Regions from separate parts of the Homo sapiens genome. Here region 2 is linked to region 1. The links come from fine-mapping of genetic effects on gene expression. A gene starts in region 1. The other region holds a variant in brackets. All regions are shown on one strand. Distances are from middle to middle. Region 1 holds the start of LXN (latexin). Region 2 has its middle 34 kb from the start of MFSD1.

The links. PIP is the estimated chance that this variant, and not a neighbour inherited with it, causes the effect.
Region 2: its variant is the best candidate, but not a certain one, in a credible set for the expression of LXN in whole blood (INTERVAL, PIP 0.52).

The regions. Positions count from the first base shown.
Region 1 is chr3:158,670,253-158,675,252 of GRCh38, reverse strand. It overlaps LXN (latexin), which reads left to right and starts at 2,605. Exons shown (of 6, transcript NM_020169.4): 1 at 2,605-2,903; 2 at 4,234-4,296. The coding sequence starts at 2,775. The region is part of intron 13 of GFM1 (G elongation factor mitochondrial 1); the gene reads right to left. RefSeq lists enhancers at 2,232-2,421, 2,732-2,781, 2,203-2,795, 3,222-3,281, 2,796-3,388.
Region 2 is chr3:158,833,305-158,838,828 of GRCh38, reverse strand. No RefSeq gene overlaps it. Among named protein-coding and RNA genes, the nearest start is that of MFSD1, 34 kb to the right of the region's middle. The variant GT/T (reference allele first, on the strand shown) is at 3,372.

The sequences.
Region 1 (5,000 bases):
GTGCAGTGGCATGATCTCCACTCACTGCAACCTCCGCCTCCTGGGTTCAAGCAGTTCCCTGCCTCAGCCTCCCGAGTAGCTGGGATTACAGGCGCCCGCCGCCACGCCCGGCTAATTTTTGTATTTTAAGTAGAGACGGGGTTTCACCATATTGGCCAGGCTGGTCTTGAACTCTTGACCTCGTGACCCACCTGCGTTGGCCTCCCAAAGTGCTGGGATTACAGGCGTGAGCCACTGCTCCCGGCCGTAAACTTGCTCCTTATAAACATAATAATAAAGGCTATTTAAGTTCATTTGACCACATTAATTTTTACACATTTTTTAAAGCACAATGATTTTTTTCTTAGACATTTTTGGCTGTTTATTTGGACTAGATATTCCTGGACTGCACATATAATGACAGAATGACTTAGTCTCATGAATCATCTTTCAAATTTTTAATGAAAGAAAATGAGAAACAGGAAAAGGTGAGCTACAGCCAGTTTTAGACAAATATGAAATTATCACTGTAAAACGCTAATTATCTTTTCTTTTCAAGGAGAGAGGAAAAAGCTTAAATATAAGCCATGTTATTAATAAAAAACCTTGAAGTATGGAAATAAAATATGGGCAGTCTTCTACTTAAAATGCTCTTAGACAAATAAGACAAATACTGTTCTCCGAAAGTCTTATTTTTTTATTTCTGGTGTTCTTCTAAAGTGTCTCTCAAATGAACAGTCTTCTTCATGTCAAAGTTCCCCAAATTTCACCAATTCTTTGGTAAATTTATCCCAGGAGACAGTGTAAGTTCGTATCTGACAACCCCATCGAAAATTGGCTGATATTCTGTATTTGCAAAAATATTGCCATGGGTGGGTCAGGGTTTAACAAATGCTGAACTAAGAAACGTGGAGAGGCCAGGCACGGTGGCTCATGCCTGTAATCCTAACACTTTGGGAGGCAGAGGAGGGAGGATTGCCTGAACTCAACATGGTGAAACCCCATCTCTACTAAAATACAAAAAAATTAGCCAGGTGTGGTGAAGTGCACCTGTAGTCCCAGATACTAGGGAGGCTGAGGCAGGAGAAATGCTTGAACCTGGGAGGTGGAGGTTGCAGTGAGCCGAGATCACGCCACTGCACTGCAGCCTAGGCAACAGAGCGAAACTCTGTCTCCAAAAAAAAAAAAAAAAAGGTCATGTGTGAAAGACAGTGTCTCGCAAAGCAAATTTCTCATACACGGACAAGACTGAGAAAAGTTTCATTGACATTTGATACAAGATGATGGGCAAGCAGACAGATGGTATTTAAAGGCAAAGTCAATCAGAACCCCCAAATCCCAGGAGACAATAATAAGCATGAAACTGAGGCCAAAGTCCAGAATCCAGATTTACTGCAGAATCTACATAATCAGAAAGAGATACACCTCAAGAGTCTTGGGTGTGTGCATTACTACCAAGTTAAAGGTCCTGGCCAGGCATGGTGGCTTATGCCTGTAATCCCAGCACTTTGGGAGGCTAAGGTGGGTGGATCACCTGAGGTCAGGAGTTTGAGACCAGCCTAGCCTAAACCCGTCTCTACTAAAAATACAAAAAACTAGCCGGGCATTGTGGTGGGCACCTGTAATCCCAGCTACTCTGGAGGCTGAGGCAGGAGAACTGCTTGAACCCAGGAGGCGGACGTTGCAGTGAGCCGAGATAGCACCATTGCACTCCAGCCTAGGCAACAAGAGTGAAATTCCATCTCAAAAAAAAAAAAAAAAAAAAGAAAAGAAAAGAAAAAAAGGTCTCAATCCAGGCAGCGAAGACCTTGGCCAAACTTTGGTAGAATCTCCAAGTTATCCTAGCCCAATTAACCTAAGACCACCAAGGATAAACCTGTACTTCTACAAAGTCAGGTTTATAGGCCCATTGCAATGAGGTAGACCACATACCAGAGAGAGTGCTTTGTATAAGTTCAGTTTTTAAGTTTATTTTAATCCTTGAAGTAAAATATTCAAAATGACTCAAGTTGGAAGCATGGCGTTACATCAAAACTTATCATTTTAAGATTAGTAAAGGAGAGGGGTACAGGTGCATTTTTTTATTTCTCCTGATCCAAATTACATAATCTCCCAATTTAATACTATAGTTTGCAGATTCTCATACTTTGATTTGGGCAGAACTGGTCCAAACCCACAAAAAGCTGAGGATGAGCAAGCCTCTTCCTGGACTCTCATAAGGGGAAGGGAAATGAAGGAATCGAATCACTACCTGGAGTACTGTGTACCTTGCCCTGCCAGGGACGCTGCATGCGGTGTATAAGGAAGTTGTGCTCCAGTATGCAAGCGAAGCAACCAGACTTTTTTCCCATGGACAGGAAACTAGAGTCTTCAGAGATGTCCTATATCAGCGAAAGCCCCACCCTGCACTTCTATAAAGGTTAATGAAACGAAAGATGCAATCCCAGCGAACCTAGCCCACTGACTCCCTCCCCACACCTCCACCTGCTGGTGCCTGACAAGCATGCTGGCCTCTCCTCCAGTAGGAACCAGCAGGCGGAGTAAGGAAGCCCGCTGCAGGCAGTAGTGGGGCGGGGCCTCAGAAGCAGTCAGCCCAGGGCTCTCGGATGCAGGGAGCCTGGGCCCAAACAGCAGCTTCCGGAGTCGGAAGGAGCTGAGGAAGAAGACTGACTGAAGGAGCTTGCGACTTTTCCGCCTCGGCAACCGGACCCAGCAGCAAGCAGGACGGGCGGCGCTCTGCTACTGGTCCCGTTAAGCCAGAGTAGCCCAAGCCCTGAAGTCACTGCTCATCCGGAATGGAAATCCCGCCGACCAACTACCCAGCCTCCAGGGCGGCCTTGGTGGCACAGAACTACATCAACTACCAGCAGGGGACCCCGCACAGGGTGTTTGAGGTGCAGAAGGTCAAACAAGCCAGCATGGAGGTGAGTTTAGCAGGGGGTGGTGGACAGCAGAGGCTTCAGGATTGCGCTCCCTCCACTCACCCGCGGTCTCAGCCTTTGGGTGCAGACACTCCGTGCCACCCCCTACCCACCTTCTGTTTTAGGACACACTGCTGGTATCTGGTCTTGAGATATTAAGGTTTCTGGGGGAATGTCTATACTCCAGTCTCTGGAGACAGCCCGGGACTGTTTTCACCTTAAGGCAGAGACAAAGTTTTTACGCACACAGTTACAAGAAAACGGGAACACGCTCTAGGTAAGGGGCAGCACTTTCCTTAAGTGTAAACTGTAGAAACCATTCAAAAGACTACTAAGGCTGCCACGTTTCTCATCTGCTACTCTGATCTGGACCAACAAAAGCTCCCATCTTCCAAGACTCTATTGCCTACATTTTAAGACAAATCCTTATCAGACCCTTTGACCAAAATGAAGGGGGAAACAAACAGCAAGAGAAACTGACAATCAAAGTCAAAGAATAAAAGCACTGTGGGCTGACGCTGGCCTTTAGCCACCCAAACACCGCTACCACATGACTGCCTTAAATGATGTGCACCCTCTGCTAAAGGCTTGAATTAAATGTTTAAGGCCTCAGCAATCACTAACGAGGTTTGTTTTCATTTTACGAAAATCTACTGGATTTGAGATTATCCCTTATTTATCTGACAGAATTTTAACTGCTAACAGTCTTTTAGAGGTGACACAGTAGATCTTATTTTGAAACTGTACCAGATAACAGAATTAGGTATAAATTTTCAATCTGTATCTTGATTTAAAAGTGAAATACCATTTCTTAGTCTTATATAATTTGTTAATCATTTTGCAGTTTCACTAATGTATAAGTAAAAACAATACTTAATTGTATTAAGTCTCCAATTGCTTTGCAGTAATCTGCCTCAAAATGAAATTCACATTCATTGAACATTATTTGGAGGGTACACTGAGCTTTATGAAAAAATCTTTTCAAAGGTGATATTGTCATCTTTAGAATTAAACGCTGTTTCAAACTTTCTTATGTAGAGACTTTAAGATCACAGATCCAGGGGTTAAATAAAGTCTTTTGATGATTGAAAGTGAATTGTGCCCAATTTGTATGCTTTTATCCTACTCTTTTGTTTTCATCCAAAATAAACTTGATAGGGGACTTGCTAAATTAGATGTTACATTCATGGTGACATGCCTTTTTCAAGACCTAAGGCTTTCACCATTCCCCTTCAGCCAGCCCCTCCAACCAAATGAGATGCATACTTCTAACAATGCAAGTATAATGTTGTTATAATATTTTCTTGTCTCCACTACATTTTCTTAATTTTAGGATATTCCAGGAAGAGGACATAAGTATCACCTTAAATTTGCTGTTGAAGAAATTATACAAAAAGTAAGTTAAATTTCTTTTTTCTTTGAGACAGGGTCTCACTCTATCACCCAGGCTGAAGTGCAGTGGCAGAACATGGCTCACTGCAGCCTCAACTTCCCGGGCTCAGGCCATCTTCCCACCTCAGCCTCCCCAAATAGCTGGGACCACAGGTGCATGCCACTACACCTGGCTAATTTTTGTGATCCTCCTGCCTCTGCCTCCCAAAGTGCTAGGATTACAAGCATGAGCTACCAAGCCCAGCCAAAATGTTCTTATTAAACAAATTTAATTCTAAATATTCCAGATCATCTTTGCTGATCAAATCTGTAAGATTGATTAGTTTTACCTCTTTTTAAAAAGTTGTTGTGAAATACCTGCCTCTGAAAAACACTGACCATATGGGCAAAGTTTACAAGGATCAGTTCTTTACTATCTTTGGGTATTCCTAGGTATATGAATTATTTCTACCAAACTACACAAAAAAAGACTATACACTTCAGTTCAAATGAATTTCTTAAGAAGTTACATACTCTTAGGGCAGTCTGAACTTATGCCTAATATAAATGAGTGAAGTAATTTATTCCCCAATCAATCATCTTCTTAACGTCTGCTTTTCTCATTCTATTTTTCACTGGGTTTTTAGAGAAAGAACGTGCTCTTAGATATTCAGAAGCAATAGAATGCCAGCTGATACCACCATTCAGATGAAGATCTTTCAGTAATGG
Region 2 (5,524 bases), 160 kb before region 1:
TTAACCTATGTGCTTGCAATTATTTCTCTGATCCATATAAGGCTAAATTGCTCTGCAGTTTTTTGACCTACTTAACAGCAAAGTATAAACATCCATTTTTAACTTATTTCTGGACAGTTAGGATCAAAAAAGTTTAACTGAGTTGACATCATATCCTGGGTTTTCAGGGACAATTATCTCAAGAGACTAGGATCAAACTAGGCTATTCCCTTCAGGAAAAGGACCCCATTGTAAGTAGAACTAGGAATCCACTGTGGAACCTGAGGCAAGACGATATTCATCACTTCCTTTGTGATTAGAGAAAACTCACCTATAAAAGGGGATAAGAAAACCAGGGGAAAAAAATGTCCTTCCTGAATTTACCCATTCAATGCCCTCCACCCTGGGGAAAGTTGGGATCCTCAAATCCGTTATCCCCCTGGGGCCCTCAGAATCTTCCCTAATCTTCCTGATTGTTTGGACAGGTTAAAACAGAACCGAAGGTCAGCAAATACTATGATGTTCAAAATACAGTCACTGGAGCTAGTATTTTCATATTGGATGAAAATATGATGGCTATAGCAAGCTACAAAAGTGTCAAACACAATCCCAACCCTTAAGGAAGTTATAGACTGTTGGAGAAGCAAAATATAAAAACATACAAACAACAATATGGGTACTAACAGCTTAAGCAGCTACAGAAGAAATTATGTCAGTTGTTGATTATCAAAATGAATAATACAGGCAGTAAGCGTTAGAGGAGTTTCAAAGGGGACTGAGAGCACTCAGGCTGAGAGAGCCATGAAGAGCCTATGAGTACACTGAAGGCTGGGAGAAATTTCAACCAGGAGAATGTCCCAAGCAGTGGAGAAAATGGAAAGAGAGATCACTGTGAGCAAATTTAATTTGTGTGAAAGTCATTGGTTGGTTCCTGAAGGTGAGGAGTTGGAGACAATGCTGGAAGGGCAGGCTGACATGTGATGATGAAGCCCCCCTAATGCCAGTGAAAGAACCACTTCTCATGCCAGGAGGAATCACCAACGGCATTTCAGCAGAAGTGCAGTATGATCAAAGTCATGATTTAGAAACTTAATCTGGCAGCTCCCCCATGTTTTGAATGAATTAAAGAAAATGTCACAGCTTAGACTCCTTCAAAGTCTCCATATTGACCTCCCTTCCCTTCACAGCATCTCCAGATTTTCTTTAGAACAGTATTTTCCATACATCCCATCCTCCCCAATTGTCCACTCTCCCCTGTATCTTCACTTCCACAGAATAAAGCCCAGCTCCCTCACGCTGACATGCTAGCCATGTCACAGTCTAGTCCCAGCTGAACTCTTCAACTCATGGCTCTCTCACCACACCCTGTGGCTTCCCACCTCTCTCACATTTGCCACGGGCCTGTCATCTACCTCTTTATAATCCCTGACAAAGCCTTCTCCAAATGCCTACGTTCCCACCTTCCACAGGCCATGGGCTTGGCATCCTCCAATTGCCTCAGACCTCTGCACTGCTGACTCTCCCATGGGGCTTATTGCCTTGAAGTTGACATGGGCTCCTTTATCATTTCAGGTCTGTTTTATCTCCCTCACAACTCCATTTTTCAACCCATAGAACATGGTATCCCAGCAACATTGCAAGTGTGGTAGACAGTGGGCACAGGTGATGTCAATCATGAAAAGAAAGATGATCAATATTTAGAAGACCACTGCAGGGATCCAAGAATGCATTTAACAGGCAGGCTAAGGTGGCATAAGGAGAACTAAAATTTTTAAACGTATTGGAAAAAACAGAAATAAAAGGATTAAACACGGCTGGTAGGGAGACATAACAAAAACTACTCTGAGACTCTGAGCCACGGGAATCAGAAGAATGATCAACTAGCACCTAGCACTCAGTGGGTGGGCAAGGGAGGAAGGGAGGGAGGGGACTGTGTGCTGTTAGGGAGAGCTCAGATTTAGACAAGCTACTGTTAGCTGCTAGTGAGACCTCAAGTTGGAAATGCAGGGTGGAGGTTGAGAGAGAACCGAATCTCAAGCTCTGGGTTTGGGGCCAACTGGGTGGGCAAATATACAGAGCTGAATCAGAAAATGGTATCTCTGAGAGAGAAGTGAAGAAAAAGAACAGAGGACCTAGGATACACAGGAATCATAGAAAGCATGACAGAGTGGAGGACAGGAGTTGCTCTCGGATAACAGAGCATCAGAAAATCAAGTAAGTAAACAGGGTCAAGACACAGAGAAGTCAAGGGTGTTAACATGAAACAAACTAGTCAAAGAGAATGAACAGTTGTAACAGTTGTCTGTCTCTCAGCAAACAGCTCAAATGCCACCTCTTCCGAGAAGCCTCCCTGGATCACTCATCAGAAGGCCCTCTCTTCTCTGAACATCCTCCACACCTCTCTTAGCACATCTCCCCTTCTGCAAAGTATGAGGGGCATTATTTAAATCCTTTTATCTCCCTCACCCCGAGATCTAGCAGAGGCTTGAGCATATGGGTGCTCACTAAAACACTGAGGAATAAATGAATACATAACAAATGCTTCTCCTGTGTGTGCTTTTCTGGAATTACTGAAAAATCCAATTTATGAATGTGTGCCTATAAAACTAAATCACAAGTTCTTTGGGATTTATTTGTTCTAACACCCACCGACTTCAATTCAAAGCAGTCCCAGGATACACAACCTGCAAGCATTCTCACTTTTTCCTTTTATCCCATATTTCAAAGGCAATAAAAAGGGGAAAGTTTTTAATTGCTTGCAATTAAGCATAACCTGAGCTTATAAAGTTACATAGTCTCATTATCTTTTACTTTCCTATAAACAAGCTAAATCTCTTTAGTATTTGTACTTCCCAACTTTTTGTTTTGTTGAGGATTTTTTTTGTTAACGTATCAAACAACTTCAAAGGTAATGGCCTCAAAAAGAATTCCATGATAAGAAGCCAAACTTATGTTCTTGCAGCAAGCTGTAGCTGGGCATTTTTATAGTGGTTAAATCATGAACAAAAAGCAAAGAGTGCCACTTCAGGAAAATTAAAGAATCGCAGAGTCTGAGAATGTTCTACTCTGCAAGTAGAAAAACACATTAATAAAGAGGACTTTATAAAGCATTAACCCGACAGTCAAAGCAGCAGCCTCTGAAGACCTTCTTACACTCTCTTCTTTTATAGCCTAGTTTCTTGCAAGGGCAGGCTACAATTTTTACTGTAATTTCTACCTTGAATTCATACTCCAAATCATTATACCCTGGCTGCTGCCTACCCCGCCACCTCAGTCCACTGAAATTCCTCTCAAAAAAAACTAATGACTTCCCAGTTACAAGTTAAACAGACACTGTCAGCCCCTATCCTCTCTACCTTTCTTGGCATTTGACACTGTCACTCACTCCGTTT[GT/T]TTGTTTGTTTGTTTGTTTGTTTTTGAGACGGAGTTTCACTCTTGTCACCCAGGCTGCAGTGCAATGGCACAATCTTGGCTCACTGCAACCTCCACCTCCCGGGTTCAAGCAATTCTCCTGCCTCAGCCTCCCGAGTAGCTGGGATGACAGGCGCTCGCTACCACGCCCAGCTAATTTTTGTATTTTTAGTAGAGATGGGGTTTCACCATATTGGCCAGGCTGGTCTCAAACTCCTGACCTCAGGTGATCCACCCGCCTCGGCCTCCCAAAGTGCTGGGTTTACAGGCATGAGCCACCACGCCCGGCCCACTCACTCCCTCTTAAAACCTCTTTAGCTTCCATAGACTGCATCTCTCCCTGCTCACACCGGGTGAGTGGATGTGACCCAGGACTCTGTCCTTGGCCCTCTTATCTTATCCCACATTCTTTCTGAGCAATCTCACTGACTCCCCGATGGCTCCCAAATCACACCCCAGAGCAATCCTCTCTCACATTTTGAACCCATGTTCCTGTTCATACAAATCTCGGGCACCGCAAGCTCCGCAATGCCAAAACTAAACTCATTTTCCTCCCAACCCTGCACCTTCTCACCTGCGGTCTTGATGGCTGAATGGCACCAATGTCCACCCTAGGCAGGAGTCTGGGAGTCGTCCTTAACTCTGGCCTCTCCCCGACCTCACATCCAGCAAATGACCACCTGTCAGTTCAACCTCCCAAGCACCATAAGCACCTGTCCCTCCTTTCCATCTTCACTACCACTGCCTTAATTCAAGGCCCATCATGTCTCCAGCTTCAATGCTCCAACCTATTAACCATTCTCCTGCCTCCAAATTTGTTCCCCTCAACCCCCAATCCATTCCATTCCTACTGCTTAAAGGGTCACCTTTCTAAAATTCAAATCCTACCTTGAGAATCACCAGCATTAATATCTTCCAGAAGCTCAAAAGATTATGATCACAATCCTGAACATCGAAGAAACAGACTTCAGTGATCTGCCTTGCACAACTAAATTCCCCACATGTCACTTTCATTTCATTTCCATTCACCAGCAGCCTCTCTCAGGATTAGCTCTGGGACGTCTTCTCCTCCTCCCTCCCATCCTGCACCTTCTCAGCTTTAGATGAGCTATCCTACTCACCCTTTACAATGCAGCTCAAAGATCACCTCCTCTTCAAATCATGCAGGTGTCCTAGGTTCTCTGAACCTTATTAAGTCTTGTCATTGCTCTGACAGCCCTCATCACGCTGTATCAGAGTCACTGAATCACTGATCCTCTGTCTATTTCCCCACTCATTCATGAGACCCTTGAGCAAGGTGGTCCACGCTTTCCACATCTCTGAGTTGCCAGGTCTAGCAAAGAGCCTCGGAGTCAATGATGCCAGACACGAAGACCCAGAAGCCCATGAACATCTTACTCAGGAAGCAACATGACATTGCCACAAGCATCATGCTTGGTTTTCCCCACTACTGTACTTCTTTGAATCATGAAATGCGAACAAAGATAAGACACATCCCAATTTCAGAAATGTTAAAAGGTGAAAAATTGTCTACGAAACATACTAAGTAGCATGATCATAAAACCTTACGTACTTAGTCATTAGACTCAAAAAGCATTTTAAAAATCTAAGTGCTGACAAATAAACTAGAACTTTCTAAGATAATTCAAATATTTCCACATGAAAAGAATACATACATTATCTTAAAAGGCAATTATAATATTTTTCCTTTGAAACATTAAGGAACTATTTGTTCTGCATCCTAATTGTGGTGTCATAGCACAAATCTCTATTAAAATTCACAGAATTCTAAAAAAAAAATAGAAGTCATGGAAAACATTTTTTTTTTTTTTTTTTTTTTTTTTTTGAGACGGAGTCTCGCTCTGTCGCCCAGGCTGGAGTGCAGTGGCGGGATCTCGGCTCACTGCAAGCTCCACCTCCCGGGTTCACGCCATTCTCCTGCCTCAGCCTCCCAAGTAGCTGGGACTACAGGCGCCCGCCACTACGCCCGGCTAATTTTTTGTATTTTTAGTAGAGACGGGGTTTCACCGTTTTAGCCGGGATGGTCTCGATCTCCTGACCTTGTGATCCGCCCGCCTCAGCCTCCCAAAGTGCTGGGATTACAGGCGTGAGCCACCGCGCCCGGCCGGAAAAC